2 separate regions of the Homo sapiens genome follow, and region 2 is linked to region 1. Evidence: fine-mapped expression QTL. Tissue or cell type: left ventricle. Region 1 holds a variant in brackets; the other region holds the start of a gene. All regions are shown on one strand. Distances are between the middles of the regions.

The links. PIP is the estimated chance that this variant, and not a neighbour inherited with it, causes the effect.
Region 2: it holds the start of METTL24, and the variant in region 1 is the best candidate, but not a certain one, in a credible set for the expression of METTL24 in left ventricle (GTEx, PIP 0.81).

What each region holds. Positions count from the first base shown.
Region 1 is chr6:110,227,467-110,235,573 of GRCh38, reverse strand. It overlaps CDC40 (cell division cycle 40), which reads right to left. Exons shown (of 15, transcript NM_015891.3): 14 at 6,598-6,742; 15 at 3,342-5,620. The coding sequence ends at 5,443. Among named protein-coding and RNA genes, the nearest start is that of CDC40, 51 kb to the right of the region's middle. The variant C/T (reference allele first, on the strand shown) is at 4,201.
Region 2 is chr6:110,353,696-110,361,802 of GRCh38, reverse strand. METTL24 (methyltransferase like 24) reads left to right here and starts at 3,454. Exons shown (of 5, transcript NM_001123364.3): 1 at 3,454-3,848. The coding sequence starts at 3,531. RefSeq lists an enhancer at 823-1,117.

The DNA.
Region 1 (8,107 bases):
AATACGACACTGTGAAAAAGAACAGGTAAATATAAAAAAGTACAAATACACCTTCCAGAAAAGAAAAACAGCCATGGAAATAAGAAGTTTAATGGAACAATGGCACCCTGGACACAACTACAGAGACGTAAAATGAACTGGAGGCGGGCGCAGTGGCTCACGCCTGTAATCCCAGCACTTTGGGAGGCCAAGGCGGGCGGATCATGAGGTCAGCAGATCGAGACCATCCTGGCTAACACAGTGAAACCCCATCTCTACTAAAAATACAAAAAATTAGCCGGGCGCGGTGGCGGGCGCCTGTTGTCCCAGCTACTTGGGAGGCTGAGGCAGGAGAATGGCGTGAACCCGGGAGGCGGAGCTTGCAGTGAGCCGAGATCCAGCCACCGCACTCCAGCCTGGGCGACAGAGCGAGACTCTGTCTCAAAAAAAAAAAAAAAAAAAAAAAAAAAACCTGGAAGACAGGCCTGAGGAAATTACCCAAAATGTAGCAAGAAAAATATGAGCATTTGTATTTTTTATATGAGATATTTTACGATCAGATTGAACCTTACAATATTTTTCAGAAGATGAGGCAGTATACTGAATATCTGAGCCACTCTTATGTAAAATGTGGTACTATAACTGTACTGTGCAATATGGCAGCCTCTAGAGGCATATTGCTACTGAGCACTTAAAACTGTGGTTAACTGAGAAACTAAATTTTAAATTACATTTACTTTTAATTAATTTAAATTAAAATATACAGTCACATACCACATAATAACCTTTCGCTCAGTGACAGACCACCATATGATGGTGGTCCCCTAAGATTATAATGGAACTATGCAATGGAGTAGGCTATACCACCTAGGTTTGGTACATACGTTAACTCTATGATGTTCGGACAACAATGACATCACCTAATGACACATTTCTTAGAACGTATCCCCATTGTTAAGCAACACGTGACTGCACTTGATTTTGTTATTGGAAAACTTCTAAGTATGTTTGAAACAATTTGGGCATGTAAATCTACTTTGTATGAAAGATAAAATACTTTGATGAAAATGTAGTGTCTGAATTGAGATGTGCTGTAAGTGTAAAATATATACCAGATTTCAGACTCCATATGAAAAAAGTAAAATATTAATTTTTAAAATAATTGAGTACATCTTCAGATAAAATTTTGGATATGTTAAAATATATTATTAAGTCCCTTTTAAACCTGGCTATTAGAAAATTTAAAATCACATATATGACTGACATATATCTATTGGACAGAAGTATATTAAAACAAATAAAACATGGAGATCTGAGTTGCTCCCCCAGACCTAAAAAGCTGGAGGCTGGAGAGTGGGGAATGAAAGAAACTCATTTGATGACAGCTATTGCAGATGTAAGAAGCTGTAGAATCAAGAGTTTCACTTTCACTTACTGTCACTAAAAATAGTCACTCTAAGGGTGCTGGCTGCAAGTCTGTGACTTCTTTTAAGTTCCAGATAAAATTGCAATTAGGTTTAGAAAGTTGTTTCCACAATTATTAAAGTGACTATGAATATGGAACATGTACACATATACTATGTGCATACATTATACACACATATACATGCACATACACATGTGTACAGTGCATATTTTTGACCAGCTAAATTTCTCTTTGACTTTACATGTCCCACATAGTCTAGTTTCCCAAATGCCCAAGATAAATTTGGGACTCTACCTCAGTGCTTCTCATTTGGGGATCTTGCTAAAAGTGCTGACTTTGATTTGAAGATCTGAGTTGGGAACAAAAATTCTACATTAAAAAAAAGCTGGCCGGGTACGGTGGCTCATGCCTGTAATCCCAGCACTTTGGGAGGCTGAGGAGGGCAGATCACCTGAGGTCAGGAGTTCGAGACCAGCCTGACCAACATGGAGAAACCCCATCTCTACTAAAAATACAAAACTAGCTGGGCTGTGGTGGCGCATGCCTGTAATCCCAGCTACTCGGGAGGCTGAGGCAGGAGAATCGCTTGAACTCGGGAGGCAGAGGTTGTGGTGATCTGAGATCGCACCATTGCACTCCAGCCTGGGCAACAAGAGTGAAACTGTCTCAAAAAAAAAAAAAAAAAAAAAGCTTTCTAGTGATTATTTGTGTGTCTACATATATATATAAATATATATTTTTAATTTGAATCTTCAGTTAGTTCGTTCATTTTACTCAGTGATCAAAGAAACATTTCATAACCTGAATTTTGAGCCCAGTGCTGCAACAGACACTTTCCTCCCATTGGATCTTCTCTTCTTCTCAGGCCCTTCGTACTTGCCTTGTTTTTACTGTATTTCATCAATTATTTTATGATATACTAAGAAAAAATTAAATGCTGCCCATTAAACTAGGACATTCATTTATTTTAACTAGAGCCCTATTCAAAAATGTCAAAATGTGAAAAATATGCATCTGTGATGATACATGGAATCAGTTTCCCCAGGTCTCACTTTGAGACCCACATTTAATACTGCTGAAGGATACTGGGTGCCTGGATGCCACTTTATACCCCTTCCCATACCTGAATTCACAATGGCTCCCCCAAATAATTCCTACTTTTTTCTGAATTCTACATCTCAGTAAGCAACGCAACCCCTAGGTAATTCAGATGCAGAGGTTCTCAGTCCATACCCTGAGAAACAATGTTCTCCAAGAAAAGTCTCTATAATTGTTCCCAGTGTTGTGATATTTATGGTTACCATCTAAGGGTTTGCTATTTCAAAGTCAATGTTTTCTTACAGGTATTTTATAAATATACCAAGGATACCAGGCAGCCCCACAATGTAGCCTCAAGAACTACTTAGAAATGTGGCTGTGTAACACTACTCCCGTTTTTTAATCTTAAAATTTGTTCCTTGTTTAGGACAAAATATTTCCAGCTTGTGACTCAATATTTAAATATTCATTCCAGTAAATATTTCACTAAAGCATCACTTTTATCGTAACTTTTAGGAAGGAAATCTGTCCTGGATATGACAAAAAGGCTGCAATAAGGAAAAGGAGCCAGATGGTAACCACCTAAGTCCAGTAACAATGTGATCTTGAGACTTTTTATGCTGAAATATAACCCCACTCATTTATGTACTCTAAAATGTTGTGTAGTCATGACTTAGTGCCACCACTAAATGAATATGGAATGTGTTAATGTGCTCTGAGGGTACTGCCATGTATTTTATTATATAATTATAAACCCACTGATATACCTGAATAAACCACATCCACCTCTAAAGCATTATTTCTCTCCATATGACCCATTTAAAACTGCAAATGGCTTAATCTAGTGTCTCAATACACTTAAGACTCAAAAGGAGACTAAAGATGAACAAGATGAACATTTTGATAGCACTTTCTACAAAAAATGCTTTATTTAAAAATATGATCTTTTTAAAAAGGAGACTTTTATACACACTTACTTTAGAAACAGTCAAAAACACAACAGAATCAATCCAGATTTAGAAATGATGATTTGTAACATACAATATTGGTATGCTGAACAAGACAGTTTAAATGTATGATTCTTTTTGTCCCTTCACATTTCAATAATTCACATTTGTTAAAACTAGTGGTTGGGACTAAAGAAAAGGTCATATCTGAATCCTTTCCCCTTCAGAAATCTGTCACCCTTCTGGGCAGTTACAGAAATGGCAGCAGCTAGGCAATGTTTGTATTTCTTTGGGTGCCTCTGTGTCAAAAAATATATCTCCGCTTTTATTCTTTTTCTATGAAATTTATATTTATGTGGCTATAGGGCCTGGTCGTATGTCCCACGCCTTTTAAAATCTAAATTTCTAAAAACAGACACTCCGTAAGGGCAAGGAGCATACACTGCTATGACCTCACTGGACTCAGAGCTTAATGCTCTTAGGTTATCAGCAAGAGACATGATTTTGATCTTCCAGTTAGCACTCCAAGCTGCTATCAACCAACCTTTTTCAGCACGGTAGTGAAATATTTCAAACCATATTCAAACATCTAATATAGATTTATAATAAAACAGGAAAAATGGCTTGCCAAATTAAAGTGCTATGAGCTATTACATTCAAGAGGTTATCTTGATTTTATTTTTTGAGGTGGAGTCTCGCTCTGTCGCCCAGGCTGGAGTGCAGTGGCATGATCTCAGCTCACTGCAACCTCCACTCCTGGGTTCAAGCAATTCTCCCTGCCTCAGCCTTCTGAGTAGCTGGAATTACAGG[C/T]GCCAGCCACCAAGCCTGGCTAATTTTTGTGTTTTTAGTAGAGACGGGGTTTCACTATGTTGGCCAGGCTGGTCTTGAACTCCTGACCTCAGGTGATTCACCTGCCTCAGCCTCCCAAAGTGCTGGGATTACAGGCATGTGCCACCGCGTCCGGACTATCTTGATTTTATAATCTGATGTTTTCAAAAACTATTTTTCACCATGGCCACTGCTTCTCAAACTGGGGAACCCTAGCCATCTTCCAGGAGTGTCATTTTTTTTTTCAGACATAGAGGTTTAAAAATTTTTTAATCTTAAAAAGTTCTGTTGTATATATTCACAGGTAAAATAAGAATAATTTTAAAGATAAAACATATGACTTCAAAGAAATTACAAGTTGACATCTTGGACTCTACCCCTCGTACTTTATCTCCTATGAGGAGGATTTCAGTAATCACAGCTGCGAAGCAATGACCTAGGAGATCCTGATTTCTCAAAGCGTAGCCAGGTCTTTACTGACAGTGAATGTAAATACAATTCAAAGTCTTGGTGCATTCTCCTGAGCTCCATCTTCAGATATAATGTAATTCTCTGATTAAATATATATAGTCCTGTCTATACTGATCAGGAATTAAGTCAACAAAAGAACTCTGGACTGATTTTGATTTTTCACTGTTTATAATTAGAGGAATGCTACAGTTAAAGATTACTGCTTTACAACTAAAAATATACAACATATATCATCAAAGGGAGTGGAACTCATGAAGCCAAAAGATTAAAACTTGACCCAGTGAAAATAATAGGGAGAGTAACTGTGGGTGATTTTATCCTTCTTCCAAATTTACATTAAAATATATTATCCCTATTCTTTACTGCCCTTTTGGTTGAAGAGGTAAATACATGCATTTTTCTGAATAATTAATTATAACACCTCCTCTAGAATCCCAAATCCACTAGGGATTCTTTCTTGACCCCAAAGAGATGCTTTCAGTATGTCATGAGTATAAACTCAAACTGCTTGCCAATTATAACTACTTGTCAAATAGAAAGTCAATAGCCACTTTCTGTATAAATAACATTTATAAAAAACAAAATGAAGTTGCAAATGAAATTATGTCAAATTTACAGTTTCTTTTTTTAAACAAAGGGTCAATGTCATCAACATTATCTGTAAATCAAGTTATCATCAGATACATTTAATAATTAAATATAAATATGACAATGGATCAAAAATGATCCCAGCTAGTTTAAGGATTAATCTCATTAATCCCACAATTTAATGAGACCATCCCAACCACATGTTATGACCTTAGAAGTTTCATGAGGATGCCACACTGCACCTATACACACTTTATCATGAGCTTTAAATCGACTGTAGAGTTTTGTGGTCTTCCAGTCCCAAATGTTTAATTTTCCATTTCCATCTCCTGAAATCACATAACTATAATGGGAAGAAAGATAAATTCAAATTATTAAAATACCTTAAATTGGTAAGGCGAATGAGGAATAGGGACGTTATCTTTTCACGTTAACATTAAAAAAAAAATCCAATGCAAATATACAATACTCAGAATAAGATGGTAGAACATGAAGCAGTCTATAATTTGAAATTCTATTAAAAAAACCTCCCAACCAATCTAAGAGTAGAAAATTATTTTTAACTGGGAAGACTGGGAGTCCCAGGAGCCACAGTGAATGAGGTTACACAATCAGTCTCTAGATAGTCAGAAACAGAGACTGGAGAACCAATTCCACATATAGCTAGGGAACACCTTTAGATCTATTCTATCACAGTAGGCTCTAACACTTTCATAATTACTTTTTGGCTTTAATATCTTTTGAATACATCTAAGACTGAATCAGAGGTAGGCCCAATTACTAGGCTAAACAAACAAAGTTACTGGGATTTCTAAATTACTTCTGCCTATACATTTTAACTAAGAACCATGCTGTAGGCTTCACAAATCCAGTGTGACCTAGAAATATTCAAAAGCTGGATTTGAGGTTTCAGCACAGACAAGCTGTAGTGAAGCTGTAACTGCAACACTGTAATACACAATTAATTCTTCTGGTGTTCATTCAATCATAGCAATACAGTGATTATAGCACTTCTAGTCTTGCTTAGAAAAGCAGAGAAAATAAGGCATTGGTTATATAGACAGGGATTTATTAGGTGGCTAAAGGGCATAAGCCTAAGTAATAGAAGGGAATATACTGAAGCAAGAACCTAAAAAAAGCAAAATGTAATTTTCCTAATTTGTTCTTGCCTTTATATCCAGCATTTTGACAATTTTGACAGATCATCGAGTTCTCATAAAAACATATTATGTGAGAGTGATGTGTCAAGTGTTATTTGTACAACAACAGTTTATATAATCATATTTGAATACGAGAATGGATTAGAAGATTTAAACTTACCTCATGTCTGGTGAAAAGTCCACCTGACAAGCATAGCCTGCTACCATATGGCCCTTAAAAATTTTTTTCTTATTTAATCTAAATCTGTTCTGTGCTCCAAAAATTAAGATTTGGTTGTCCATTGATTGGCATGCTAGCCATTTTCCTGTAAATTCAATAAATGAGGTATTTTAGAGGAAGACTAAAACAATTTTTAAAACTTTTTATTTTAAATATGTTCACTGTGATTAATATAAGTTTTGCTCCCAAATACTTTATAATACTAAAAAATAAATTTACTATACCACCTGTAAAATGTTATAAATATGTCACTGGCAAGAGGTATTAATATATAAACTAATGGCTTTTGCATATACGATCCTATATCATTGAGCACTCTCATATAAAAGTTTTTAAAAAAATAAGGAAATATAGAAATTCCAAGCTTAATGTTAAAGAAATAAGCTAAAAGTTGTGAAATGAAATTAATTTATAGTAAGTATAGACAACAGAACTATGGGAAATAGGAGAAAGAGACTTATCTGTGGTAATTACAGAATAAAGAAAGATTAAGGGGTGAGAAAGCCTAGGGTTATTAAATAAAACTATACAAAAAAAGATATATTAAAAATTATAGTAACTTTTTAAAAGGCTACAATGCTTTTCTCTACTTAGGATTCATCAAAGCCCCTAGAGCCTAAACTGCAGCGTCTATAGTCATGCACCACTTAACAATGTTTTGGTCAATGATGGACCGCACGTATGACAGTGGTCCCATAAGATTATAGTGCTAAATTTTAACTGTACCTTTTCTATGCTGAGATTTTACTGTACCTTTTCTATGTTTAGATACACAAATGCTTACCACTGACTACATTATTCAGAACAGCAACATGCCATACAGGGGTAAAGCCTAGGAGCAACAGGCTATACCATACAGCCTAGGGTAAGTAGACTATACCATCTAGGTTTGTGTAAGTACTCTGTGTGATGTTCACAAAATGACAAAATCACCTAACACTGCATTTCTCAGAAGTACCCTTGTTGTTAGGAATGCATGACTATACTTGCATCCTATATATAGTCATCCCTTGGTATCTGTTGGGAATTGGTTCCAGGATCTGCACCCCTACCCAATACCAAAATTCACAGATGCTCAAGTCCCTTATATAAAATGGCATAGTATTTGCATATAACCTACATATCTCCTGTATACATTAAATCACCTCTCGATTACTTATAATGCCTAATGCAACGTAAATGCTTTGTACCTAGTTGTTATGCTGTGTTGTTTTTAATTGTTGTATTGTTATTTTTTATTGTTTATTTTGTTGAATATTCTGGATTCGTGCTGGTTGAATCCCAGGATATGGTGCTCATGGATACAAAGGGCCAACTGTACATGTAAACATTACTTACTAAGGAAACAGACTTAAATAATGCCTGAGTGGGTAAATGGCCTTGTTCAAGATGGGCACAAAATCTGTAATAGGTGGTTTAAAAATACGCTACATGAAATATAGATGCACAG
Region 2 (8,107 bases), 130 kb before region 1:
ACTGGGTGATATGGTTTGGATGTTTGTCTCCTCCAAATCTCATGTTGAAATGTGACTTCCAGTGTTGGAGGTGGGGCCTAGCGGGAGATATTGGATCATGGGGGTGGATCCCTCACGAATGGCTTAGCACTATCCCCCCTTTGTGATAAGCGAGTTCTTGCTCTATTAGTTCATGGGCGATCTGATTGTTTAAAAGAGGCTGGCAGCTCCTTCCTTTCTCTCTTGCTCCCATTCTCACCATGTGATGCACTGGCTCACCCTTTGCCTTCTGCCATGACTGTAAACTTCCTGAGGCCTCACCAAAAGCAGATGCTGGCACTATGCTTCATGTACAGCATGCAGAACCAAGAGCCAATTAAACCTCTTTTTGTTATACATTACTTAGCCTCAGGTATTTCTTTATAGTGACACAAAAAAGGACTAACACACTGGGTATGTCACATTGTGAGATATAAATAACCACTTGATGAAGGTGAGGATACTATCGGCTCTGTTTTCTCTTTGGACAGTCTATAATTTAAAATGACCACATTGGCATCTATAGTTACAGCAGGTTTTCTCAACTTAGGCTCTCCTGACATTCTGGGCTGGACAAGTCTTTGTTGTGGAAGGCTATCTTTTGCACTGGAGGAGGCTTAGCTGCATCCCTAGTCTAATAGGTAGCCATTAGACGCCAGTAGCATCCTCCAGTGGTAACAACCAAAAACATCTTCAGACATTGCCAAATGTCCCCTGGGAGGCAAAACCAACCCTGGTTGAGAATCACAGCACTACAGCAGGTGTCCAAGTTGAAATGCATGTTGTTTAGGAGATTAGAAATGTTCTGTTTCACACATTTTTCTGGCTAAAACCTCTAGGAGGATGTAATCTGTGATCTGATGAAAGCCGCTATTGTGGTTTACTGACCTGCTTGTTTAATTAACCAGCCTATGACACAGCGGTTAATGATTATCTGCATTTTTGAGACACATCCAGAAAGGACTGAGACAAGTTCAACTCTATAAGAAAAGCAAAGGTCGTGAATGAAAGATTGCTTGTCAGCTACAACAGTGATCCATTAGATTTGCCTCTTCAGCCCACAGACTGACCCATTTTACTATTCATTATCATCCACCACACAGGAAAACACTGTGTGGAAGTTAAAAATAGGTTTCTTCCAGAAAATTGATGCTACATACATATAAACGGTTCTTTTTTATTAGTAATAAACACATAGACATAAACACAACTGCAAAAGATAAAAGGCTATTTAAATATTCCATGTAATTTGAATTTTTTTCCATAATGAAAACATTTTATTAGAGAACTGTAGAAATGAGATAAAGGAAAATATGAGGTCATCCTGCCCATTCTCTTCAAGAGCTACACTGTTTTGTATGCACCCCCACTCCATCCTCCACCCCCAGCCCAGAGTCTTATTAAATATCCCCATTTTAATAATATAGGAGAGTGCTTATGCTTCCCCACCCACCCCCAGAGAGAAACTCAACAGAGGAGCAGAGGGTACGCACTAGTGGCACCATGATCTTCAAAATATGACTTCTCTAGTTAGCGGCACTGTGTTGACTGCATAGAAAATAAAACTTCCAGCAAAGTCTACATCAGACATTACCAATCCAGGTTTATCAAGCACCCTACAAACTCTGTCTTAAAGAGCCTTATACAACTTAACAGAGTTCGTTTCTTGATGATTAATTGTTATTTTCTTGAAATTATTGGGTACTCTGAATTCCAGAGAATGCTGTATAAATTATTTGTAAATTTCCTTATACTTTATCTTTGCCCACTTTGGAATCAATGCTTACCTTTTGTTTTTCATGACAACATCCAGGATTTTCTTCCATGGTAAATAACAAAATAATTACTATTGAGACCCTTCTGTGAGCCAGTATTATTTGGGCATGAAACATATAATATTTTATGCAACATTTATAATCCTGCCATATATATAGATCTGTTTATTCATGGGAAAACGGAAACTCAGAGAGGTCCAGTACTTCGTTGAAAGTCTCATAGTGCTTGAACGGCAGGGTCCTGGTTCAAACACAGTTCAAGTAAATAGTCACAGGATGTGAGGCTGGCTCTCAGTTTGTGTAAGGAAAAACTCGTACTTGTTTAAATTTGTTAAAATAGAACCCATCTGCAATATCCCCTGGACTCATCTAAGAAAAAAGCAAAAGTCAATCCTAATGGAACGTTCAGGAGCCTGAGGATCTGGTGTGGCCAGGGGGTGGACTAGACTGGGTGGAGATATTTTGTTACATGTAGAGAAACAGCCCAAGTGCTTTGTTCACTAGCAGGGAATAAATTGGGTCTTTCTTAAGCCAGGAAGAGAAGAGGATTTTAGAGACGAGGGCTTCCTACGGAAAATACCCAACATTCAAAAGGGCAGGGGGGTAGGGCCCCATATTTGTTCTCTCTTGTCCATGCTGTAGGCTGTTACGGGGGAAGAGGATAGGTCTACAGGCGCAGTCTCCCATGGAAGCATGGAAAATGCAAGAGTAAAGCAAGGAAAAAAAGAAAAGTGACTACAGCTTAAAAAAATCTAAACCCAAACTCAAACCTAAAACCCAAACCCACCCCAAATGGGTTGTGGGAAAGGATTCTACTAACAATTGAAAATGGAACATCCACCACTGGACTTCAGGCTGTGAGAGTTCAGTCTGATTAATTAAGGTCAAGGTGGTGATGGAAATACCAGCTGGGGAGCATTTTGCCGAAAGATAAATTTGTCCCTCTGTATTTCTGCGAGACAGCAGGGAGGTGTGTGTTTGGAGCTAAATTAATTTGATTTACATCATGCCATGGTAACTTCTGTTCTCTCTCCCCCCTCCTCACCAACCCGCTGTCAGATGTCTTAGCTGGCTTTTTCCCTCTTCTTCTTCACCCCCACACATTTCATAACACGGAAAGAAAGCACGAATTGGCTTCAGGCAGAATTTAGACATAGAATAACTCTAATTTGATTATTCTGCATTGAGTGCTATTCTCTTCGCCCCCCAATCCCTTTCTTTCTTGAGAGAGAGAGAGAAGTTGTAAGCCCGGGCATAAGTGCTATTTATTTTTATATTGTGCTTAATGGTGCAAACTGCTTGACTGTTCCTTGTATGCTCACCTACCCTCCTCCTGTGTTTCTCCAACAACACTAATACCAGAAAATGAAGTTATGGCCCGGGATCCCGTTAGGAATGCGCTTTTTCTGGCCCTATGTCTTTCAGCTCCGTCAGGCTTTGGAGGCCGGGGCGGAGGGCACCTCTTGAGGGACCCTGTACAGCCGGGCCCTGGCACCTCCGGAGGGGCGGAGAGGGCCCCCTGTGACCGCGTTCGGCCCACCACCGTTCCAGCGGCGGGGCGCGCTCGGCAGGGCAGGATAAGGTTACGCCGGGGCTTCCTCGGTCGGGAGGGAGGGAGGCGGGTCCGAGCCCGCACCCCGGCCCGCGGGGGAGTTCCCACAGTTGGCCGCTCCGGCCTGTGGGGCTACATCCCTGCTGCCGGCCAGGCGCGGCCCGCGGGACCCCGAGTGTAGCGCCATGGCCCGGGAGAGGCCGCCCGGGAGGGGCTGCGGCGTCCTGCGCCGGTGTCTACTCGGGGCTGTGCTGTTGTTCGGCCTGCGGCTCTGCGCAGAGCTGCGGCGCGCCGGGCCCGGGTCCCCCACCCGCAGCGCCCCGCCGGGCCCGGCCTGGCGGCCACCTGGGCCGCACCTGCCGCCCGCGCCGGGCCAGCCGCGCGGCGCCAGCAGGAGGCAGGTGACCTACGTGCGCAGCGGTCGCCGGGCGCCGCCGGGGGGCGGCGGGAGCGGGACGCCGGAGCCTGGCTGCTGTGCCCCGCGCGGGCGCCCCCGCCGGAAGGTCAGTTGCAAAGCGGTCGGTCTTGGGCCTGGGACCAGAAGCCCCCTCCCGACCGCGCTACGGAGCCCGGCGCTCAGGTCCCGCAGGCCGCCTCGATGGGACCTCCGGAGGCTTCCGCTTCTTCTCTTCCCCCTGTGCTCTCTTAGGCGGCTCCACGGGTCGCATCTTTCAGTGCCCAGATAGACTGAAGTGCGGCCAAGCGGAGTTCATTCACTATTCAGCCAGTACTTGGGGGTCGCCGTGGCCGGGCGCCCTTCTAGGCTCCGCGCATCCCGTGAAGAAGGACGGAGCCCTGTTCTCACGGAGGATACACTTTAGTAGGGGAGTGTTTGCGTGATAGGCAGGGAAAGGGAAAGGGAAAGGAAGGCGTTGTGGCTGCCATTGATGTGCTGTGCTGCTCCCAGCCTTCTGCTTAAGGCCTGGACAGAGTTGGGTGGGTATCGCCGTGAATGGCCTGTCCACGCCACTGCCTTCATCTCGCTGAAGATCCACCAGCTGGCCGAATTTCCCTGGAGTCTCATTCCAGGCGTTGGCTGGGGGCTGGGAGGCTGGCGCCAGTTGAGAAGCCGAGCACCCAGCCCCACTTAATGAGAAGTTAATTGGATCCTCGAGGACCCAAGTAATAACCTGGGTTTGTCTTATAACTCTCGACCGTGTTGTGCCTCCTACCTCATTAACTTCTTGGCTTACACCTCACTGATTAGTCCATTTTTAGCCTCTGATTGTTAAGGTTTTGGGCTCATCTCCTTTTTGGAGCTCGGTAATTTGCGTCGTACATGGAAATGAAAAGAACTACAGGTATGAGCTCTCCTCATCCTTTTACCCATCAACTCCTGCTTCCAGCCTCAACCACGTTCTCCAAAGCAACTACTTTCCGTTGCCCGGCTGTTCCTCGTTTCTTTTAGACATCCACCCCAACCTCCACCCCGCTTCCCATCACCGGTCCTGGAGGGGAGGGAACAACTCTTCCTTTGCCTCGCTGCTGTCTTCGGCTGCCCAGTGCTAGCCTACTTTTCAGCACCACAACCCAGCACTCCTGCCGGGCTTCACTTCCTCGCTTCCTTCGGGCCTCGCCCTCCGTTTTTCCACACCACTGCTGTTCCTTGCTGGGCCATCGTGCTAACTTCCTGGATAAACTGAAATACCTTTTTCTATCTCGCAAACCTCACCTCCTGTGTAAAGTCTTGATTAGATCTTCCAGAAGAAAGCAGCCACTTCCTCTCCAAGTTCCTAATTCACTGTCCGTGATACCATGTTAAACATTCAGCACAGTTTTGCCAAGGGCTTACCAGGTAGGCATCTGGTGCTGGAGGCACAAAACGAGTTCAGATTCTCGTGGGGGAGGCTCTTAGCACAGGCATCCGGTGATTTCCAATCCTGTAATTGAGGCCTTCAGCTCTGCCTGGGGAGTCAAGAAAGGCTGCTCAAGGCGGGGGACATATTTGAGTTACAATGTGATGTTTCTTTCTTTTCTTTTTCTTTTCTTTTCTTTTCTTTTTCTTTTTTTTATTTGAGCCGGAGTCTTGCTGTGTCGCCCAGGCTGGAGTACAGTGGCTTGATCTTGGCTCACTGCCACTTCCGTCTCCCGGGTTCAAGCGATTCTTCTGGCTCAGCCTACCGAGTAGCTGGGATTACAGGCGTGCACCACCACGCTGGGCTAATTTTTGTATTTTTAATAGAGATGGGTTTCACCATGTTGGCCAGGCTGGTATCGAACTCCTGACCTCAAGTGACCCACCCGCCTCAATCCCCCAAAGTGCTGGAATTACAGGCGTGAGCCACTGCGCCTGGCCAACACTGTGATGTTTCTTAAGAGTGGGGCTTCTTTTATTCCCCTCTGGATGTCCTCAATGTTCCATCCTTGACACCCTCAACCCCTCCCTGCAGTTTTCCTTTTAGATTCACTCAGCATCTGTTGTTTCTGCTGTCATCTGTCAAGTAATTACTCTTAACTCTTTGTCTGTACCTCAAACGACAGTACTGATGGCTGGAGCCTGTCCTACAAAGGACAGGTTTGGAATGCATAGACTCAGTGGGGCGCTGGAGGGGAGGTTCACACTCATCCCTGCTAGGAGCTAGGAGGCTGCCACAGTGATTCAGGCTGGAGATGGGGGTGGCTTGCTGTGGTAGGTGTGGAGGTGGTGAGAAGTGGTTGGTTTCTGGATGTGTTTGGAAGGTGGATGAGGAGGAGCAGTTATTTCTCTCTTGTTTGTTTTGTTTGGGGGATAGATGGAAAGCAGGAATTCAGTTTAAGATATCCTTCAGGCATGCATGTGAAAATGTCAAATAGGCAACCGGACGTGTGAGTCCAGAGCTTGGAGGAGATGTCCAGGCTGAAGGTGGTGATTTGAGAATCATCCAAGTACAAATGGCAGTAAAACTGAGAGATCGTATGTGGTCATCTAGGAAGTGAGTGTGGCTAACAAAGAGAAGCAATCCGAGCCTGTGGCCTGGGGCTCAGTTTTATTACAATTAAATTAGGGAAAAAAGTAAAGGAAATGTTTAGCTTTGTGCCTGGCATGTTTAGCTCTCAATAATGGTAGCTTTACTTTCTACAGTAGGCCCCAGGTTTTTAGCCTCAGCCAGTCTCCAAACGTCATTCACTGTAACCTACAAAGGTGGCTTATGCTCACTCCTCTACCTGCAAGGCCCCATCCCCCTTTCTTATGACTCCTGCCCTTTTCACCCTTGGACATTCCTCAGGTCAAGGTTCATAGCCCAGAAACCTTCCCATAGCAACCCTGCTTCATGCTGACCCCTCCCCCACTTGGAATGACAACAGAAAGAGTCTGATTTGTGCATTGCTTTGTACAAGTTGAGGCCTGATAATCCATTTCGGATGGAATGTTTTGTCTCCACAGTTGTTCTTGATGGGAAGGATTGTATTTCCCATAGTGACCCCTAGTAAATGTTTACTCCTGAGACCCCAGTATGTGAAAGTATAAGAATCTTACTATTTCAGCCTATTCAGTAACTGTAAATGTCTTTGGTTAAAAATTTATAAGAAATAAATGGGCCTTTTGCTATTTCTAAAATATTAAGTTTTTAGTCTCCTAAGGTAAACATTTTCTTAGATTTCCTTCTCGCTAGCTATTATTTTCGGGATATACATCTAACCTTCCCAAATCCCTAGATAGTGTTGATCTTGAATTTGTTTTATTCTCCCATTATTTCACAGTTGAATTAAAATATTCCTTAAAACTATAGAAAGATCAGTTATCTAATCCATCCTCCCACTTCTGGGAACAAAGCTCAATAACCCCATATCTCTCTAGGGACAAGTCTTGTTTCTTTTCTGCCTCACATCAAGACAGCACTGTAATGTAAGCTGAATGTACCATTAAGTAATTGAAATAAAATTAGGAAGCTATTTGTTAAACTCCTTGGATCACAGTGTATTTAGATTTTGTTTGTTGAGAATACTGATCAACAATATTCTTAGGTTCTTGGTTACTTTGCCCCAGGCACCTCCCAGATTGATAAAGGAGAAAAAGTTCCATTCTATTTTGAGGACAGCTTTCTGGGTAGATGAAAACCTGCATGAAATAATTGGGTTGCCAAGTATTTCTTGTTACTCTGCTTCCATTCCAGGTGTTAGAGGCACCAAAATTCTGCCACTTTAATCACAGCTTATGCTCCTCTTAAAGAAAACAATCTGCTATAAAAAAGAGTAGTGAAGTGTAGTCCTCATATAATTCTTTCTTTCCTCGTCCCCTTCTTCATGGAGCCATGCAAGAACTAGCTCTAAATATTTTCAGATCTTTCGACATCAGGGGTTCTAATCTTCAAGCTTTGCAAAATGAGAGCCAATGATAGATGATGGATAAATACTGCCCTTTTTGATTATGCCCACCCTGGAACCTATATATTCTTGTGTATTACAGATTCTTTAAGCATTCTGTCGGGACTCTTCATCTCCAAATTTCGCATACTATGCATGCATAAAAATACCACTGTGATTCTTTTATTTTCTCTCTGTTTTCTATCTGCATGTGTTTCTGTTTGGGTTTTTTTTCTTTCTTAAATGAAACAGACCTTTACTATGATTACAGATAAAGTTCTTTTTGAAGGGATTTATAGAGGACTAGATATGGTCTTCATGATTTATGCTTTTTAATGCAGCTCTTGGGTGGATGTTTTATCTCTTATAGGTTGGCAATCCACCTAAAAGACAGATGCAACATACAGGGCCCATTTGCAAAAGAGAGACACTCACTCAGTGGCCAAGCTTCCCGAAAAAGTTTCATCTCTCTTATCGG